Linked DNA regions of Homo sapiens. The protein of the gene in region 2 purifies or fractionates together with the protein of the main gene of each other region. This does not show direct contact. Each region holds a gene or a part of one and is shown on either strand. Other genes may lie near its edges.

Region 1 (7,032 bases), on a different chromosome or scaffold from region 2:
CTGGGGGTGTCACTGTGTGAAGGTCGCCTCCAGGAGCTGATGGGGAGAGGTTGTACTTACCGTGTTGTTCTGTTTCAGGTATTTTGCACTTGGACTGCTCTATCATTATAATAACCAAGATGCTGCTGCAGTTCAGGTGAGTCTAGAAGGGTTTCCACATGATTTAAAAATCAGCACCATGTAAGTAATACTTAGTGTTACTTAAAAAAAATTCACAAGTTGATAGAGACCACTTTTGCCTGATCTACACCCTTTTATACAGAATAAAAATGATTCTGTTTTAGAAAGTGAATTCCTGGAGAAATGTTGGCCAAGAGTTTTCTTCTCATTGTCTTTCCATCTCCTTAAAGAACATTATCAAGACTGAGTTTTTGAAAACTTAAGAAATGAAAATATGATCTCACAGAGTTCCAAGTCATAATATATCACTACCCTTATCAGAAAATTTAGGCAGTGAATGATAGTCGGATTTACCATTTCCACTGTTAGTGATGATCACTGTTGCCAATGAGCTGGGTACATTATTATCCTTGTGTCACCTGTGACAAAACCAAAGCTGATGCATGCCAGTTGCTTGCCCGAGGCCATGTGTCCGTGGTAGATCTGGGATCTGAACCGCGCTCCATTGGCCTGGCAGGGGTCCTGCACCCTAATCAAAATGGCATCGATTTATTAGCATTGTCACATTTTGTATCTTACATCTTGCTACTGATCTTGAGAAAAGCCTCATCTCACACTCTCAGGGGGAGACTTTCTCCCCTTCGTTATTAGTTATGCATTTGTACTGCACCGTGTTGTTTCCTGATGTGCCTTTTTGCTTTATTTTGTGAGGGGCCAAGAGCATCAGCCATGTTCCCCAAGCTAAAGTTAACCTCATGACTCTGGCAAGGCTGAACATGTATTTAGTGTTTGATTGCTTTGTGAGACTATTGTGGTAACCTGATTGCAGAGCAGAACAACAACAACAACAAAAAATGGAGTTGGGTGAATTAACACGTACCCAATGGCCAAGAGTAGATTTGGGTGTCAGTGATAAAATTTTCATTTTCAAAAACCTGGTGTTCTCAGTTACAGCTTTATATAAGTATAGTAATAACTTTAGCAGAGCTGTAGAGAGATAGATTTGCAAACTTGAAGTGATATGGGATAAATCTCCATACGTGGTAGAATTTTATATAAAATGGCATATTTCAAGGTATGTGTGATTATTTGGTTTCAGCAATTCTGTGTTGAAGAAACTAGTATCATAAAAAATGTTCGTATGCTGACATCAGAATTCCAGAATTCATATGCCACCCCTGTTTCTGGGCTCCTTCCTGGTGCTGTGGCTTGGAGGGGTGGTGCTGTGTATGGGTGGGTGAGGCACGCCATGCAGGTATTGCAGAAGGAACCCACGCAACCGTCATCCTTTCTACCCCCAAGTGATGCTGCCTCATTCTGGGGTCCTGAAAGTAGGCTTCACTTAACATGGTAGGGAAGTTTCTGGCTGAAAAAGCAAAAGGCTTTTATCACTGGAGTCTATCCTGAGCCCCCTGTGCAAAAGGCAGTGTGAACTCAGGGGACAGAATCACTGAAGCTTTTGTAAAAGCACAACATCTGCCTATCACAGTCCAAAGGGGACTTCAAAATCAAGAATGTCTGTGACGGAGAAGATGGAAACAGAGCCTGGCTGATGGTTGTAGGTGAATCTTCTCTGTGTCGAGATGTTATCAGTGACCGTTTTCTTTATTTCATGAAGAAACATTTTTAATATATTCACCTCCCTGCATATATTCTGTTTACTGTGTTATTGTTAAAAAAAGAAAGAAAGATAAAAGAACCTAGAGCTTAATTTTTTTTTTTATTTCTTGGACTATGTCTTTTTACATTTCTTTATTTCTCCAAAAAAACTAAAATTTAAGCATTTACAGTTTTTCCAACTACTTTAAAAGGTATTAAAAAGCCAAATAAGTAAACATATGCCATTTCTCAACTAATTCTGAGATATGTGCCTTTATGATTGTTTTTTCTTTTCTTTTTCTTTTTTTCTTTTTGATTCCTTTCCAGTTGTGGGTGAACATTGTGAATGGCGATGTCCAGGACTCCACACGCTCAGACCTGTATGAATACATCGTGGATTTTCTTACCTACTGCTTAGACGAGGAACTAGTGTGGGCCTATGCTGATTGGGTCCTGCAGAAAAGTGAAGAGGTTTGTGCTTCGTAAAAATGCATTCTCTTTGGTTGGGGGAGGTGGTAAAAACAGACCCCAAAAGCTTTGCTTTTAGGAGGGGAAAAGAAAGCTACATTTCAACCTCCTCCTCTGTTTTTTGTTGTTGTTATTATTCCCCTTTTAATACCTTCCCTTGAGCTCTCTGGATTCTAGCTCTAGGGCAGTTCTGCATCTTGCTGCTGAGACATTCCATTGAGAATCCCCTTGCTGGGGCAAGTCACTTGTATAGAAAAGCAAGACATAGCCAGCTTGCATTTTTAGCATCTTCTTAAGAACTTGTGTCTGTGAACCCCGCTCCTCGACCCCTCAGAAGTCTGACACTGCTGTTTTCTGGAGCAGGATTAGGTGGTTGCCCTGAAGGACTTGATCTTTGGGAGGAGGAAGCACCCAGACCTGGGCCACACTGGGCCCTCATCCCTGCTCCCACCACTGCCAACATGGAGCTTGTGGGCCTGGAGGAGGGAGGGGAGCCATGAGCAAGACTCGGCCTGTCCTGGAGGCTGAGAAATGCTGGCAGTGAAAAAGCACCTGTTGGCTAGAGGGAAGGTAGCAGGCTCAGGACAGTATCCTTAGTAAAGCCCCACAGGTGACCACAGGTGACTGGGAAGAAGACAGCAAGCATTTCAGTTCTCATCGTGAAAAACGTATACGCTTCCATGGCTCCCCTTGGAGAGACAAAATGAGCTTTCTGATGCAGGACGTTGGTCCTGAATGGAGAGTTTCTGAGTGCTGCATCTGCCTTTCTAAGACCTGAGTTGGAATATATTCTCATATCCTCCGTGGTGCTGGCTTCCCTGGAAAATCAGAGCCAGGCACTTGCACTTTGCATACTTGTTTCTCCATCTTTACTTTGCCTCTGTGCACACGCCTGCAGAGCACATCCTGACCTGCTCACACACACCTACAACATGGATCTCAGTGCCGTTGCAAGGTTTAGGCTTCTCCCAATGCTTATGGATGATAACAGCAGATACTGCACGGTGGACAATCCCCTGACAAAGGTCATCGCTTAAACATCATAGCAGCCCCTCAGTGGGCATTAGCTACAGATGAGGAAACTGAGGCTATAGTTGGTAGAGCTGGGACACAAATCCAGGCTTATAGAATCCAAAATTCATACCATAATACATGATACGTGAATGTATTGGCCTTGGAGGGGGGAGGTGCGTGTGTGCGTGCACATGATAGAACCTCCCACATGTAAGTGCTCAGGGGAGGTGCAGTGGAGAGCTGCTTTCCTGCCTGCCTCACTGTCCTTTCCTTGAACCAGAGGATTGGACCAGTGCCTCCACTTGATGGACACAGGAAGGCAGCCCGGAAACTTACTCAGGGACTGGAAGCTCAGATCTCAGATTAACCATCTATCATAAATAACCCAGAGTAGATAATCCATGTTCAGAGAAGTGAGTTTACTGTACAGAAATTTCAGCACTTTTGATATCTTTTCACATACTGTTCTGCAACTGGCTATCCCTGTTCTTGGATGATCTTAATGTTATTATTATAGGTTGTCAAAATCTGTCACCAGTAAATGCTTTGTTCTTCAGTTTCCAATTTGCATGGGGTGTGTGAGGAGGACTTCAGGGTATAGGCTGGCTTTTCTATCTTGATTTTTTGCCCTCTGGCCTTTGACAGTGCTTCATGCTGGGCTGTTTTTCTCCATAATTATATTTTTTAAGCCACTGTATTGAGATATGATTGACATACAAAAAGCTGTGCATACATAATAATTTAATCATATTTTAAGTGATGATTTTATCCAAAGCTTGAATGTGCAATGACCAAAATAAAGTTAAAGGAAAGGTGGGTTTGGGAAGCACAGTCACTGTATTGTCGCTCCTCTTTCAGGTCGGAGTTCAGGTTTTCACCAAGAGACCTTTGGATGAACAGCAGAAGAACAGTTTTAATCCAGACGACATTATCAATTGCCTTAAAAAATACCCTAAAGCCCTTGTGAAGTATCTGGAACATCTTGTGATAGACAAGAGACTGCAGGTGAGCACTGCAGAAGTTAGACTAAAGAGTGTGGGCTGGAGAGACGGAATTGAACTAGAACACTTTTTGGCATGTGATTCTGTGTAATGTCTGTTCCCTGGGTGATCCATCCGTACTTGTTGATGGTCTGATGGCGGCCTTGAGGCTTGCGGAAAGAGACCTGGAGCAATAGGTAGCTTTATTTTTTTCTCCGTCCGTCTCACACCCACTCAGCTTTTATTTTTCCTCTCTTTTCCTTCTTTGTTATTATCCTTAAAGGAAATAAAGGGAGCTATACCTTTTTGTAGGTTATCTAAATTCTGTGGCCCTTACTTCTTGAAATAAGAGGTGACATTTTGTTCTATTCCCCATAGATGGTAAACTCATCTCAGTATCATGGTTTCTGAGAGGGTTTCGATCCAGCAAGTGAGCATCTGCCCAGCTCATGTCAGTGCAGCCGCGGTCTCCAAGCCCTGGCTGACAGGGGAGAGCTTTGACTTTCCCACTTGAAAACACTGTCTGTCTGCTTGGCTCCCCCTGTTTCCTGCAGAAAGAAGAGTATCACACCCACTTAGCTGTGCTGTACCTGGAAGAGGTGCTGCTGCAGAGGGCCTCCGCCAGTGGCAAGGGTGCAGAGGCCACCGAGACGCAGGCCAAGCTGCGGCGGCTGCTCCAGAAATCTGATTTATACCGAGTCCACTTTCTTCTCGGTGAGGATGATCTCAGTATTGTCTCCCTTTGGAAAAAACTCATATCAAGCGGGTGGGAGGAAGCAGAGAGAAGGGCTTTGGCACAGCTGCTGGTTGATTGCACAGGGTGATTCTTTGAGCCTCTTTTTTTAAAAAGATTTTTTTAAATGAAGACAGGGTGTCGCTTTGTCACCCAGGCTGGTCTCAAACTCATGGCCTCAAGTGATCTTCCTGCTTCTGCCTCCTAAGGTGCTGGGATTATAGGCGTGAGCCACCACACTCAGCCCTTGAGCCTCTTTTGACAGAGTCAGCCTCCTTGCAGGGAGAAATAAGGCTTCTCGTGCCTCTAGAGATGGACCGTGCCTCTAGATGGACGGTGCCCTTTGATTGATGATGTTGGTGCTGCCCTGGTAGACTTTAGACGTCTGTGTGTCTCTTGACACACAGTGTCTTTATTCAATGTCAAAGCACTGAGTCATAGTTCCCTCTGACGGCTTCAGTCTCTGATCAAGGCTTTGCAGTAGGCACTGCCCCCAGCGACCCATTCCCGAGCTGCTCAAGGCTCAGGTCCCTCGAGCTCTAAGCAAGAAGGTTATGCAGGTGTCTTGGAGGGCATTTGGGTTTCTGTTCCTCAGGGGTACAGAGGCCACAGTTTCTGTATTGTGTAAAGTTCCACAGCGCAGCATGGTGCTTGCAACTGGTAGAATTAACTAGTTTCTTGCCACATTAAGAATTTCTGCATTTATACTCACTGGGGTTAGTGATGTGTTTTTCTTTAATGGCCTTTAATACCATTTTTTGACCAATAACAAAGCATATCTAACACACGTGTTGTCTCCATAAAGCACATCACAACCTTCCAGAGCTTAGGAGCGCTAGGCAGCACTTCAGCACTACACTGAAATCACCAACAAGAAGCACCAAAATGCAAAAAAGCATGGCAATAAATAGCCCGTGAAAAGGAAACGTGTAGCTAGTACGACAGCTGAAGCAAGGAAGGAGGGCGCTCCTTCTTTGGCCTCAGCTCTGCATCAGGCTCTGTGCTTGTCGTAAATGACCTTGAAGCTGCTGCGAGTGTTGATTGGGAGGTTACAAATAAATTTCAGCGAGTAGATGACTTTGTAAATACAGAATCCACAAATAATGAGGATTGACTAGATATGCCCAGCATAGGTTGAAACGCTGAGGCTGCCTTATGACACAGTTTCCACAACAACCCTGTGAAGTGAGGCCTGTTTTTCCTCCATTTTTACAGAAGAGTGCACTGAAGCCCAGAGAGGTTACCCCGCTTGCCACAGGTCACACAGCCCACGAGCAGTAGAGCCAGAACACAGGTGTGGGTTGGTATTTCATGAAACCAGCAAACACTAGTTCTGGCTTGTACCTGCACCTACATTAGGACTTTCTGTGGCGATCCGCTGTGCAATCTCTGTTCACTCACAGCCACCGTCCCTGACTGATCAGTGCCAGGGTGTCCCAGCTATTGAATTTTTACTCACTCCTGACTTATTCTTTTTGCTTTACAAATCTCCTTATAAAACTCTCAGGCCAGCCACAAGTGTGTGGTTCAATGTTTGCATTCCGCCAGCTTTTCTGAGTATGTAGAGTGTGTCACTGTGCATTGAGGATACAAAGATGGATGAGACTTGGTCCTGGTCCTCAGAGACTCAGAGTTTAATTGGAATGCAGTTAAGGGCAGGTACAGTTCTAGAAGGGCCGAGGAACCCACGAGCTGTGCCTTGGGGTGGAGGGGTCAGAGGCAGCCTCCCGGAAGAGGCCCTATATGAGCAGTCATTAGGTATAAGCCTGGGCTTGCAGGTAGCACAGGGGAGCTTTCAGGCAATGGGGGTATCCCCCGCAGCACTGTGGGAGGAGCACTGGAAATCCAAACACTGATTTTGTATCCCTTCTTAGTTAGATGACTTGGGGAAATGTCAGTCTAGGGAAGTTGTAAAAACGATTCCAGCCCAACCTATCCACTCGGGGTGGCTGTGGGAGTCAAATATAAATGAGATGATAGATGTGGAAGTGTAAATCACCACAGTGATCTTTTCTTAACTGTCTTTGTACCTCACCCAGGGTCTTAACTATGGCAGCCACTTAGTAATTATTTGTTGGCCTTCCACTGTGAGGATGAAGGCGTTGCGTATTGTGGCTT
Region 2 (7,032 bases):
GGGCATGTTTACAAATCATACTCAGTATAAAACACAGGTGAAGACAAAAGTAGAAAACAGCACTTCCAGCAATGCCTTGCTGTTTGCCTTTTCCCCACTTCTATTTTTGTAGGAAAGAAGCAACAATCTTAAAGACAAGATTCGTGCCTTTCAATTACAGGATTTCAGATACTTTTTATTTTTTAAATAGTAATCAAACTTTCCTCTAAGTCTTAACATATGCCTGGGAACAACAATAGGTCACAAGAAATGACTGGGTAGGCTGGGCGCAGTGGCTCATGCCTGTAATCCCAGCACTTTGGGAGGCTGAGGCAGGCAGATCACTCAAGGCCAGGAGTTTAAGACCAGCCTGGCCAATATGGTGAAACACCATCTCAACTAAAAGTACAAAAATTAGCCAGGCATGGTGGCACATGCCTGTAATCCCAGCTACTCAGGTGGCTGAGGTACAAGAATTGCTTGAACCTGGAAGGCGGAGGTTGCAGTGAGCTGAGATCGTGCTACTGCACTCTAGCCTGGGCAAGAGAGCAAGACAGCCTCAAAAAAAAAAAAAAAAAAAAGAAAGAAAGAAAGAAAAGAAATGACTGGGGGCTTAAAATAATGGATGAATTTTAACCTGGAGACTTGGACTGAGCAAAAAATACATTCTGAACACATGAGCATTTTCTAGTACCCACAAATTATACAGGTATTTTGGGAAAAGAATGTACATGATGAAGAAAGCTAGTATGCACAAGCAGTTATGATTAACCTAATTTCTCTAATGAACATGTTTTGATACTATTAAAGCAAGTGGTATTAAATCAATAAGCAATAAGGCTCTAGGTTTTAATGAAAATACAAATCACCTGGTTAAAATACAGATTCTAAAAGGCCGGGCATGGTGGCTCACACCTGTAAGCCCAGCACTTTGAGAAGACGAGGCAGGAGAATTGCTTGGACCAGGGCGGCAGAGGTTGCAGTGAGCTGAGATCGTGCCATTGCACTCCAGCCTGGGCAACAAGAGTGAAACTCCATCTCAAAAAAAAACAAAAAAAACAAAAAAAACAAAGGTTCTGATTCAGGAGGTTTGGAGTACGGCTTGAGATTCCACCCAGGTAAAGCCAAAGTTGCTGGCTTATGGATACACTCTAAGAAGCAGGGATGAGATGCTATTTCAGGTTACTTCATTCTAACACCTTTTTTCTATCTGTGTGTGTCGCTGATGATTTCAATCACTTTCTTCTAGTATGGATATTTATGTAGCTCCATAATTAAACTTCAAACTCTGTGATGACGGAATAAATTCTTAATTGAACACCAAAAAAATAAAAAGTTCTCAAACAGTGAGAGCAGGTCCTCATGGCTCTCCCAGCTCCCTTAAAACATCCCCATGTAGAGTCCAATCTCTAACCAGTCTGCCAATTTAGGAGTTAAATCTCATTATAGTTTCAGATTATTACTGAGCTCAACAAAAACACACCATCTCCTCTAGGTTATTTGGCACCAGAGCAATCAAATTTCGTATTTTAAGTACATTTCCTACTATGTTCTTATCAGACACACAGCAAACTCGTTATAGAGCTCGACTGCCAACGTTCAAATCTCAGTTTGACCACATATGAGACACATAAGCCCGGCTTTCCCAATTATCTGCCTCAGTTTTCTCATCTCTAAAATGAAAGTTATTGTCTGCTTATGTAAATTTGATGGCACCAAAAACAAAAGAGTTTGTGAAAATTAAACTAGTTGAAACATCACAGTGCTTAGAATGGTGCCTGGTACTGGTACATACTCGATATAGCCCTCGTTAAGTACTACAAAAGACAATAGAAGTGATGGAAGTACCTGCCATCAAGAAGTTGACAATATAGTTGGGTCTAGACTGAATTGCATTTTAAAAAAATTTTCATCTTAATTACTTTTGAGACAGGGTTTTGCTCTGTTGCCCAGGCTGGAGTGGAGTGGTGCAATCATAGCTCACTGCAGCCTCAATATCCTGGGCTCCAGCAATCCTGCCACCTCAGCCTCCTGAGTAGCTGGAAATACAGTCACACGGCACCACATCCAGCTAACTTTTATTTTTTGTAGAGGTGGGGTCTTGATATCTTGCCCAGGCTGGTCTCAAACTCCTGGGCTCAAGCAATCTTCCTCCCTCACTCACCCAAAGTGCTGGAATTATAGGCATGAGCCACCATGCCCAGCTAAATTGCATTTTTTATAAACTGAAGATTTTACAGAAAACCTATCTTGGTGGTGCTTCTCATTTTTAAAACAACTTTTACAGTTTACACATATTAAAACTAGTCTCTCTTTAAATACTGTTCTTGGTAGAATCACAGCCATTAAAAGCACTAGGCTGAGGCCAGGAGCGGAGGCTCACGTCTATAATCCCAGCACTTTGGGAGGCCGAGGCAGGCAGATCACGAGGTCAGGAGTTTGAGACCAGCCTGGCCAACATAGTGAAACTTCATGTCTACAAAAAATACAAAAATTAGCCAGACATGGTGGCGCCCACCTGTAGTCCCAGCTACTCGGGAGGCTGAGGCAGGAGAATCGCTTGAACCTGGGAGGCAGAGGTTGTGGTGAGCCGAGATTGCGCCACTGCACTCCAGCCTGGGTGACAGAGTGAGACTCCATCTCAAAAAAAAAAAAAGTAATAGGCTGGGCACGGAGGTTCATGCCTATAATCCCAGCGCTCTGTGAGGCCGAGGTGGGAGGGCTGCTTGAGACCAGCATAGGCAACATAGTGAGACCCCATCTCTACAAAAAATAGAAAAATTAGCTGGGTGTAGTGGTGCACACCTGTAGTCCCAGCTACAGGAGGGACTGGTAGGAGGATCAGAAGCTCAGGAGGTTGAGGCTACGGTGAGCCGTGATTACGCCACTGCACTCTAGTCTGTGGGACAGAGGAAGATACTGTCTCAAAAAGAAAAGGGTAGTAAGTCCATAAACATGTTTCTCTGGTAATTCAAAGAAATTCACAATAAAGCAGTCCCACCTCTGTGTACTTCCTAGGCAATCCATATGATTCTGTGGGACTTCCCACATTCTTTTTTAATTGCTTGATGGGTTACGTTAGATTGAGGTCTACAGCTGTGGTTGCCCATCATTTCTGACAGATGATTCGTTTTGTAAACAGCTGACATAAACTTATGGTATTGATAACTATAGTATAGAACTATATTTTCTCTTCCTTATGATTTCCTTGCTGTTTTTTTTGAGATGGGGTCTCATTCTGTCACCCAGAGGCTGGAATGCAGTGGCATGATAACGGCTCACTGCAGCCACAACCTCCTGGGCTCAAGTGATCCTCCTATCTCAGCCTCTCAAGTAGCTGGAACCACAGACATGTGCCACCATGCTCAGCTATTTTTTTTTTTCTTTTGGTAGAGACCGGTTTTCACTATGTTGCCTAGGCTGGTCTTGAACTCCCGGGCTCAAGCAGTCCACCTGCCTCGGCCTCTCAAAGTGCTAGGATTACAGGTGTGAGCTACCATACCAGGCCCACATTGTTGTATTACCTTGTCGTCTGGATACCTAAAGAATCCCTTCTCCAGATTTTCAAACTTAGGAGCAGACAATATGAAGAAAGTCTAATTAATGTGACATTCAGAGGCTAGCCAGGTGGAAATATAGGTCTGCAGAAAGGAGGAGTGAAGCAGACAAGCCTGAAAAGGCAAAAAAAGAGAGGGAGAGTCTGATTAAGTCGGACTGACAGGCTCTATACGGTCATAAACCAAGCTACATTATACCCCTGCCCTTCCTGCACCTTTCTTTGGAGTCCAGTAAATTATCTCTTTTGGCTTAAGCTAATTTCAAGTGGGTTTTCATCAACTACAACCAACAAAAATCCTAACTACAACAACTAGGTTACTAAGTGACTGCCATCACTGACAAGTACCTTTTACTTCCACATGCTAACTGCTTCAAAAATACATGTTCAATACTACCCTCTTTCCCAAAAGAAAACAGTATTACTTTCTATTATTTTTTTCTGTGTCCTTGGGGAAAGCTGTTAAGTAAAGATGAAAAGAAAAGGAACACCAGGCCAGGCGTGGTGGCTCACGCCTGTAATCCAGGCACTTTGGTTTGGGAGGCCAAGGTGGGCAGATCACGAGGGCAAGAGTTCGAGACCAGCCAGACCAACGTGGAGAAACCCCATCTACGCTAAAAATACAAAAATTAGCCAGGCATGATGGCACGCGCCTGTGGTCCCAGCTACAAGGAAGGCTGAGGCAGGAGAATCGCTTGAACCCCGGAGGCGGAGGTTGTGGTGAGCTGAGATTACGCCATTGCACTCCAGCCTGGGCAACAGAGTGATACTCTGTCTCAAAACGAAAAAGAAAAAAAGAAAAGGAACACCATATGAACACAGCACTGAAAAGGCAGCAGAGGAAAATCTAACATACACCTGACCTTATGGTAGGGTCTTCAGTTGAAAGAGAAACCTCACTCACTCCCCCTTTCCCAATCAATGTGCGTCTCCTACAAACAAGTAGCAAACAGTTATCTCAAATCAATAAGCACTGAATTGACTAAGTAATATAACGCAATTATACTGAAGATAAGCGCTCAAGTGTTGGAGAATTCCAGGAAAGACTTTTTTTTTTTTTTTGAGACAGAGTCTCGCTCTGTCGCCCAGGCTGGAGTGCAGTGGTGCGATCTTGGCTCACTGCAAGCTCTGCCTCCCGGGTTCAGGCCATTCTCCTGCCTCAGCCTCCCGAGTACCTGGGACTACAGGCGCCCGCCACTGCACCTGGCTAATTTTTTGTATTTTTAGTAGAGACGGGGTTTCACCGTGTTAGCTAGAATGGTCTCGATCTCCTGACCTCGTGATCTGCCCGCCTTGGCCTCCCAATTTTTTTTTTTTTTTTTGCGACAAGGTCTCGCTCAGTCGCTCAGGCTGCAGTGCAGTGGCGTGAGCTTGGCTTACCACTATCTTCACCTCCCAGGTTCAAGCGATTCTCCTGTCTCAGCTTCCCAAGTAGCTGGGATTATAGGCATGTGCCACCACACCTGGCTAATTTTTGTTTTGTTTTGTTTTTTGATACGGAGTTTCACTCTGTCACCCAGGCTGGAGTGCAAGGGCGTGACCTTGGCTCACTGCAACCTCCACCTCCTGGATTCAAGCGATTCTCCTGCCTCAGCCTCCCAAGTAGCTGGGATTACAGGCACCCACCACCACACCTGGCTAATTTTTGTTTTTAGTACAGACAGGGTTTCATCTTGTTGGCCAGGCTGGTCTCGGTGACCTACCCACCTCAGTCTCCCAAAGTGCTGGGATTACAGGCATGAGCCACTGTGCCCAGCCCAATCTTGCCTTCATATCCTACTATCACCACTTACCCTGCATTTCAAAGTCTTCATCTTTAAAATAGGGGGAATATCTCATATTTAGCTATTAAGAGGAAAAGATAAAAAATATACATAACGTGCCCGATGCCAATCCTACCACTTAGCAATAATTGCTGGATATCTCTTAGTACTCTCTACCTCCTTTTTCCAGAGTGCTTTCATTATGCCTAGCTCAGCTTGTGACAAAGAAATTTTCCTTGGAATTTTTCAGGGCAACAAAGAAGGGGTTCAAATTGCCTCTTTTTACCTTGAAGATTTTAAAGCCAATATAATTAAAATGGGATAGGTATAAGGACTCCAGGTATGCATAAGGCCATTCCTTGGACCATGATATCTGACTACTTTTCTTACAGAAGCTGGAAAGTAAGAGGCTTCATTAACTACCTCATGTGATGTGAGAACTGACCACTCTGGAGGGAAGCTGTTACTCAACAAACATTCTCAGCACTCTTAAGGGCTAAACACATAGAAAACGATTGTGGCCAGGCAGTCACATGGACCCTGCCCTTTGCAGCAGAGGTAAGCAAAACATGAGCAACAGCCACATATAAATTAAGATCTGACATCACTTTCCAAATCAGCAGCAAACAAACCAAAGAACTAGAAATTATCTCACAAGAGTTTTGACATTTGTTACCAGTAGTCACACTGACAAAATGTGTACGGAAAGAAATATCTAAATATACACTAATTTTATAAGTTATAATTTTTCCATATTTAAAACTGACAGGCTGGGCACAGTGGCACATGCCTGTAATCCCAACACTTTGGGAGGCTGAGACAGGAAGATTGCTTGAGGCCAGGAGTTCAAGACCAGCTTGGGCAACACAGCAAGACCCCATCTCCACAAAAAGTTTTTGAAAAAATTAGCTGGGCATGGTGGTGCAAACCTGTAGTCCCAGCTATTGTGGAGGGCTCAGGCAGGAGGATCCCTTGAGTGTGGGCAACAGAGTAAGACCCTGTCTCTTAAAGAAAAATTGACCAAAAAACCCTAATGAAACAAAGTTATTCAGAGTGCAAAGACTAGCTATTTTTTTCTTCAGTGGAAGTACAATTTTTCTTTTGACAAACTTCAATAACCAGATAATTAGAATCCATTACCTCTGTGGTACATATTAAAATGAATATTTCAAACTAGTCTCTTCCAGATCTTAAAAATTCACTGTGAGGAATTTCTAAGGCCCTTACTGCCAAACCTAACATAAAAGAATCAATACTGGAGCAGAGGTAATAAATGCTAACACAGAATCTACAGTTCAATATAGATGAGAACCATACTGAAATGAACATGATGAGTACAATATGGCAGCATTGCTAGAAAGAGGTCTTGATATCAAAATAACTCGTGATTCATAATGTATTTAAGTTACTGACCTAAGTAATTACCTAATTCTCTCAGCTTAGGCTTATTTATCTGTAAAACTGGAAAACACACCTTACTAAGTTCCGAGGATGCTCTGAGGACACATGATTACAAATCCATGTACTGTGATAAGTCCTTATACAATGAATTTGGACTACACTACGACGTCATTTGACAAAGCTTATTGCATTAGTAACTCTCTGAGTATAGAAAAAGAAAAAGCTTGTATAATACTAGTGGAATTTTCAAAGACATTCAAATTATAGCATTGAGAACTCTCATCTTGAGTCAACTAGATACTAAGTTAGGTGTTCACTGACATAAAAGAATGT
Region 3 (7,032 bases), on a different chromosome or scaffold from region 2:
CGGGGCCGCCCGCCAGCATCCGAGGAGGCGGAGGTGGGGCCGAGAAGGCGACGCCCCTGGCGCCCAAAGGGGCCGCTCCGGGAGCTGTCCAGCCTGTGGCTGGTGCTGAAGCGGCCCCCGCCGCGACCCTGGCCGCTTTGGGCGGCAGGAGGCCCGGACCGCCCGAGGAGCCGCCTCGGGAGCTAGAGTCCGTGCCCTCGAAACTCGGGGAACCCCCTCCGCTCGGAGAAGGGGGAGGAGGGGGCGGGGAAGGAGGAGGAGCCGGCGGCGGCTCCGGGGAAAGGGAGGGGGGCGCTCCGCAGCCGCCGCCGCCCAGGGGCTGGCGAGGGAAAGGCGTACGCGCTCAGCAGAGGGGCGGCAGCGGCGGGGAGGGGGCCTCCCCTTCTCCATCCTCCTCTTCTGCGGGCAAAACCCCAGGAACCGGCAGCAGAAACTCCGGAAGCGGCGTTGCGGGGGGCGGCAGCGGTGGTGGAGGGAGCTACTGGAAAGAAGGATGTCTGCAGTCTGAGCTCATCCAGTTCCATCTCAAGAAGGAGCGGGCGGCAGCGGCGGCGGCCGCGGCTCAGATGCACGCTAAGAACGGCGGCGGCAGCAGTAGCCGCAGCTCCCCGGTGTCTGGCCCCCCTGCCGTTTGCGAGACCCTGGCCGTCGCCTCCGCCTCCCCAATGGCGGCGGCGGCGGAGGGCCCCCAGCAGAGCGCAGAGGGCAGCGCGAGCGGCGGGGGCATGCAGGCGGCAGCGCCCCCTTCGTCGCAGCCGCACCCGCAGCAGCTCCAAGAGCAGGAAGAAATGCAAGAGGAGATGGAGAAGCTGCGAGAGGAAAACGAGACTCTCAAGGTGAGGAGGGTGGGGGGACCCGGCTGGGGGATGGGAAGAGTGGGCCTGGGAGGATTAGGGCGTGTACCGGCAGGGATCAGAGGCTGCTAACCTGTTAGGGAGCCTTGAAGAGGGAGGAGAACAAGAAAGGAGGGAGGGGGTTTCCTAGGCCTTGCCGGAATTTGAATCTGCTCTCAGTAACGCGAGGTTTTCATTTAAATTCAAATCTGGGCCTCCGTTTCTCTAATTATAATGGTTTGTCACACTTCTTCCTGGAGAGAGGTAGAGTAAGAGAACGAGAGAGGGCCTAAAGTGGGCCTTTTTCCCCCAGTTTCCTCTTCTGTACTCAGCTCCTTGTCACTCCTGTCTCGTGGAGAGAGAGGGCAATTAAAGCTGAGAATTTGGAATTGGAATGGGGTGTGTACGGTGTGTGTCGGAAGGGCTGGAAGCGAGTTTGATTTTGACACGCGGCCTGTCACCGCCTCAGAACGAGATCGATGAGCTGAGAACCGAGATGGACGAGATGAGGGACACTTTCTTCGAGGAGGATGCCTGTCAACTGCAGGAAATGCGCCACGAGTTGGAGAGAGCCAACAAAAACTGCCGGATCCTGCAGTACCGCCTCCGCAAAGCCGAGCGCAAAAGGCTCCGCTACGCCCAGACCGGGGAAATCGACGGGGAGCTGTTGCGCAGCCTGGAGCAGGACCTCAAGGTCTGCGGCGCGGGGGCTCAATGGCGCGCGGCAGGGGCGGTGGGTGGGGACTTTGGCCAAGGGCTCTTTAGGCTGAGAAGTCTTCAGTGGCGACTGGCAAGGAGCCTTAGGGACACAGTTTCGTAGCGCTAACCACAAAATACTAGGGTCTCAGAAGGGAGAGAACTGGCAGGTGGCTCTAAAGAGTGCAGAGTGTGTGGAGGGCCTGGCAGCAAACGAGCTAAGTGTGCTCTCCTGGGAGCAAAGGTGGCTCTTCAAGAGGTGATGAGAAGAAGGCTCCCTTCTGGGCAGAAGCAAGGGCGTGGCAGAGCGCAGGCTCTAGCCTTTGATCTGCCCTTCAGTCTGTCTACTGAGAGAAGTCCGGTGGAATCGGGCAGTCAGGAGCTGCACTAAAAGGACTCCTCTGGGGGAGTTGAAACCCAAAATAGGAACTGCACTGGGAAGATACTAGAGTTAAGATTTCTTTCAGCAAGTGTCCACTCCACTTCCTTCTTCCAGGACTTCTTCCTTTCTGCACTTGCCACTTAGGTGACTCCCTGAGGGGGAAAAAAAAAACAGATAACCAACTTGCAGCCTGTTTGGTGTGAGGTAAATGAAATAATCTCATTTTTTTAAAGTGCAATTGTTCCTTCAGAATTTCTTCCAGTGGAAAAATCTCAACCTTGAAGTGCATTTTCTAGACAGGTGTGGTCTCCAGTTCAGTTTGACTGTAGGCAGATTCATTGACTATGCAAACTAGACATTAACTTAATCTCCTTGCACAACCAAATAAGTATACGTTCATTGCATTAACTTCATTGGGATTTAAAGATCACGTGTAATCTTTGTTTTAAAGAAAGCTATGTGTAAACATTTTATGAAAGACGTATTACTTTTTTTCTTAACTTTTGTCGAGTGCTTAGTATGTACTAAGCACTGTGGCAAACACTGTTACATACATTATTATTTCATTTAATTCTCAAGGGAAAAAAAATCCTACAATGTAGGGATTATTAAGGCACCATTTTATAGGTGCAGAAGCTACACCTTTTACAGAGGTTAAGTGCCCAGGCCTGGAAAACAGCTAATAGGTGCCAGGCTGACTCTCCACTCAGTCCAAAATCACAACCTGTGTCCTAAGCCTCTACACCAGTCTGCTCCACTTTTCTTCCAAACCCTAGAATTTCCAGGATAATCTCAAAATATGAGGCAAAAATGCACAGTCATTCAAAAAATAATAATCTCAAGGACTAAAACTTTCCTAAGATTAAGCAACTGGAATTCAAGCTATAAGATTGAAATTCAAGCCCAACCCACTACTTGTAAAAACTTCAATTTTTCATTCTTTAACATAGATTATAATGGAAACATCTACCTCATAGTTTTGCTGAAGTAAAGGAAATTTGTGAAATTTCTCTACATGTGATAAAATGCAATAGAACATTTTTTACCACAGAGTAGTGCAGAAGTTAAGGGAACAAAATTTAGAGCCAGATTGCCAGGCCTCTTAGCCCAGCAGTGTCTACTCATTAGCTGTGTGACCTTGACCTCTCTGAGACTCAGTTTCCTCATCTACAAAATAGAAGTAATAATAGTACCTATCCCATGGGATTTTTGTAGGGTTAAACGATTGATATATGTGAATGGCTTATATGTATACTTTGTGGAATAATGCCTGGCACATGGTAAACACCATATAAATATTGGGTTTTAATGCTTTCAATAGGAATACAATTTTAGCCCTTATTATATTGTCATTAATTATATTTTATTGTTACAAACACCTTAATTCAGGTTGCAAAGGATGTATCTGTGAGACTTCACCATGAATTAGAAAATGTGGAAGAAAAGAGAACAACAACAGAAGATGAAAATGAGAAACTGAGGCAACAGCTCATAGAAGTTGAAATTGCAAAGCAAGCTTTACAGAATGAACTGGAAAAAATGAAAGAGGTTAGTATTTGATTATTTCATGGTGTACTATGTATTTTTAGCCCTTTAAAAAAGAATCCCAAGGACTAATATGACTGTTAAAAAATTTCTTTTATGATTGCAGGACAATTTTTTACTCTTACCCAAATAGTAAAAAATACATGATTTCATACTAATAAATGAGTAGCAACGAAAGATTCTGACCTAAACACGGTATCTAACTCGACATGTACGAGCTTTGACTGATCTCTGTGTTTCATCTCTGTGTCTTCTAAATGTATGTTAATTAAATCAATTCCACAGCATATTAAATGCAAAGAGTGTCAAGCGTGTGAAGGAATGAGACTTGTGATAGTTGAGGGGAATAATTAGCCCCATGAGATTACTTACAATTGAGTTCATAGAACCATGAATTTTTAGGATGGAAAAGACTCTAAGGTCCATTTGATCTAATCCATTCATTGCTTGAAGTCTATATATAGCAAAGCCAGCCCTTCCCGCAATGTTCTAATGCTTGCAATATCACCAGTGACTATCCCTGAAGATCTTTTACAGCAGCCAATTGTATCATATCATAGCTCTGTTTAAAGATTTTCCTTTTTTTTTTACATGATATATATTTAATTGCAACTTTAGCCAGCTCATCTTAGTTATACCCTTTAGGGTAGAAGAGTAAAGTTCTCCTTCATGTCAGCTATTTGAAGATTCCAAATGTGTTTACCATGAGTCTTCTAAAAGAACAGAATCAAGGTAAAGAAATGGAGGAGAAAAGAGACAGAAACACCTATCAAGAAATGATTAGCTTTAAGATAAACAGCAATTTAATTAGAATTAAATTATACTTCTCTTTGATAGCTACCTGAACATGTACAATGCAACTTGTGAAAACTACCATTGAGAAATAGCAAATGCACAAGTTGTCTTCCGAAAAATTTCCTCTGCTTGGATAAGCAGAATTCTAAAGAAAATTCTAATCTTTCCACAGACTGAGGTATTTACCCACCTGTCATTGCTGTGCTTATCTCAAAATGGTACAAAAATATAATGCAAATAACAGTGCAATTATCAACAGTCTGATTAAGAATATGTCTTAGGACTTTGAAGAATACAGTTTCAGTGGAGTAAACTATTTTTTGTGATCTGTTTACTTATATTATCCTGACTTTAAACATTTTTTAGCATAAGAAAATAGTAAAAAAATATTTTAATGATATAAAATCCTTGGCTACTAGCTAGGAGTCGCTCTGTGCTATAGTAGAAAAATATGGAGACTGGGAGCTGTGTGATCTATTTTCACCAGTAACTGGGTGACTTTAAAAGGCCTGTAACTTGTACTTGTCTACTTTTATCCAGTTCTACACTGAAAGATTGTTTTTGATGATTCTCAACATCTTTTTCTGGTATGTAAGACTTTCCTCATGAAATTCAGAACATTGCCATTTAAGGAATGGCAAAGATTTTTTCCCTAAAGTTAAAAGATCAAATATGAAATTAATATAGTTATAAGTATATATTTCTTCAACAATAATGTACAGTTGAAGGTATGTCAAAAATTGACTTTCATTTATAGAAAAAAAAGTAAAGTAGGTAACTGTATTAGTTCTCTAGGGTAGCTGTAACAAAATACCAAAAACTGGGTGGCTTAAACAGCAAAAAGATGTATTATCTCACAGTTCTGCAGTCTAGAAGTCTGGAATCAAGGTGTTAGTAGGGCTGGTTCTTTCTGAGGGCTGCGAAGGCAGGATATGTTCCAGGCCTCCCTCTATGGCTTGTAGATGGCCATCTTCATGGTCACATGGCATTCTCCCTGTAGCTCTCTGTTTCCAGACTTCCCCTTTTTGTAAGGATATCAGTGATATTAGATTAGGGTCTTCCCTAAGGACCTCATTTGACCTGCCTGGGCTCAAGCTATTCTCCCACCTCTGCCTCCCTAAGAGCTGGGATTACAGGCATGAGCCATCACACCCGCCCCTCATTTTAATTTGATTACCTCTGTAAATACCTCTGTCTCCAAATGAGATTTCATCCTGAGCAGCTGGGGGTTAGGACTTCAATATATGAATTTGACAGGGAGGGTAGAAGGAGAGAACAGAATTCAACCCACAGCAGCAACAATCTAATAGCTTCCTGTGAGCAAGCAAAGAGAATGTTCATTGTCAGTCTCATAGGCGCCATTCCCTATTCATACGTTACTTGTGCTCTCTCATATTCCTTGAGTGTTTTAAATTGTAAACATTCAAGTACAAACAAACTTCGCTTGATTACCAGAGATAAAAAAGAAATGCCTTGTAATTTGGTGTCATGTGAATGTTTTAAGTGGATACCTGAAAAATTGTACTTAAGAATGGCATAAGAGCTTTCTGATTTTCATTTTACTTCCATTAAAGGGGAAAATATGCATAGACTGTCTATCCATTAGCCAGAACAATGGGACCTCTCCCATCTTAAAATAAAAGCCAAAATAATCTGGCCACCAGGAAGAAAGGGTAGAGCTTGGGAATGTCCTCAGGAGATTGTAAAGATGCGTTTCCTTGATTCTTTTGCTCACACTCTTCCCTGTGACTATTTCCTCCTTCAGGGCTCTATTTCTGGGTTGGGAGAATGCTGTTCCAGCACCAAGCAGTGTGGGTATATATATTCATACCAAAGAGGCAATTTGATTGTCCTTGGAGTTACAAAAAACCAAATGTCAATGCCTGATTAGGGAATACAACAATAAAAGTAAAAATAATTTAGGAGTATATATGCAGAACATCAGCCTTTAAAGTAATCTTTTATTAGGAAAATGGCATTCACGATTTGAGAAGATGGAAGGTGGTGGGGAACAGAAATAAAAAAAAACAGGAAGGGAGAAAGAGTGGAAGATAAACATCTGGAGGATACTAAATATAATAAAGGAAAACCAAATAATATTCTGGTAGGAGTTCTCTATAATTATCCATTTGAGGTTGACCTTCATAGTGTTCAGAAAAATGTCAGAAATAGAAAAAGTAGTTTAACAATATGTTTAGAAATCAGAAATGTTTCATTCAGATAAGATTTTTGCAATGGTAATTTTATGATGCTCTAAAACGGTAAATATTAAAACTGAGCTGCAATTATAACTGGCTTACTCTGTGGATAAGGGTTGTAAGCTACTCCTTGGATGACTTGCAACAACTTCAGTTAACCATCTGCTTCATTGGTTGTAAAATGAAAACATATTCAAGCCCTTGGTGAGTGTTAACCAACTTGGTTAATTTGGTGAGTGATGAATTGTCATCCCTTCGTGTCATTTTTTTAAAGGAGAAAAGTAGAACCAGGCCAAGCTCTCCATTAAGAGAAAAGACACTAGTTATAGAGTAAAGTCAAAAAATCATAGAATATACTCTAGAGAAGCAATCCTCCAATTCCAAGTTTTTAGATCTTTACATGGAGTCATATAGATGTTGAACAGCACCGCTGGGACCAATAGACCATCTGCTACAGTTTAGAACTGTTTGCTAAAAATTTAATTAGCTTCAAGGGTATTGACCAATTGCTCTCAGGACTGGTGGCTGCACAAGGTCTTGTGCACCTCCTCACATCTATCTGTCTATCTTCTCCCCCTGAGAG

Evidence for each region. The genes of interacting proteins can lie anywhere in the genome.
Region 1: the proteins of NRBF2 (region 2) and TGFBRAP1 purify together in Homo sapiens (affinity purification with mass spectrometry; 3 studies listed by BioGRID and IntAct, with this or other methods). This does not show direct contact.
Region 3: the proteins of NRBF2 (region 2) and MTCL3 purify together in Homo sapiens (affinity purification with mass spectrometry; 3 studies listed by BioGRID and IntAct, with this or other methods). This does not show direct contact.

The regions. Positions count from the first base shown.
Region 1 is NC_000002.12:105,270,718-105,277,749, reverse strand, and holds part of TGFBRAP1 (transforming growth factor-beta receptor-associated protein 1), read left to right. Parts: intron 1-78; coding exon 79-136; intron 137-2,046; coding exon 2,047-2,190; intron 2,191-4,059; coding exon 4,060-4,206; intron 4,207-4,735; coding exon 4,736-4,895; intron 4,896-7,032. UniProt on the Homo sapiens protein: Plays a role in the TGF-beta/activin signaling pathway. It associates with inactive heteromeric TGF-beta and activin receptor complexes, mainly through the type II receptor, and is released upon activation of signaling.
Region 2 is NC_000010.11:63,136,309-63,143,340, reverse strand, and holds part of NRBF2 (nuclear receptor-binding factor 2), read right to left. Parts: intron 1-7,032. UniProt on the Homo sapiens protein: May modulate transcriptional activation by target nuclear receptors. Can act as transcriptional activator (in vitro). Involved in starvation-induced autophagy probably by its association with PI3K complex I (PI3KC3-C1).
Region 3 is NC_000006.12:127,509,318-127,516,349, reverse strand, and holds part of MTCL3 (microtubule cross-linking factor 3 precursor), read left to right. Parts: coding exon 1-836; intron 837-1,049; exon of another isoform or gene 1,050-1,302; coding exon 1,303-1,527; exon of another isoform or gene 1,528-2,063; intron 2,064-3,300; coding exon 3,301-3,459; intron 3,460-5,109; exon of another isoform or gene 5,110-6,279; intron 6,280-7,032.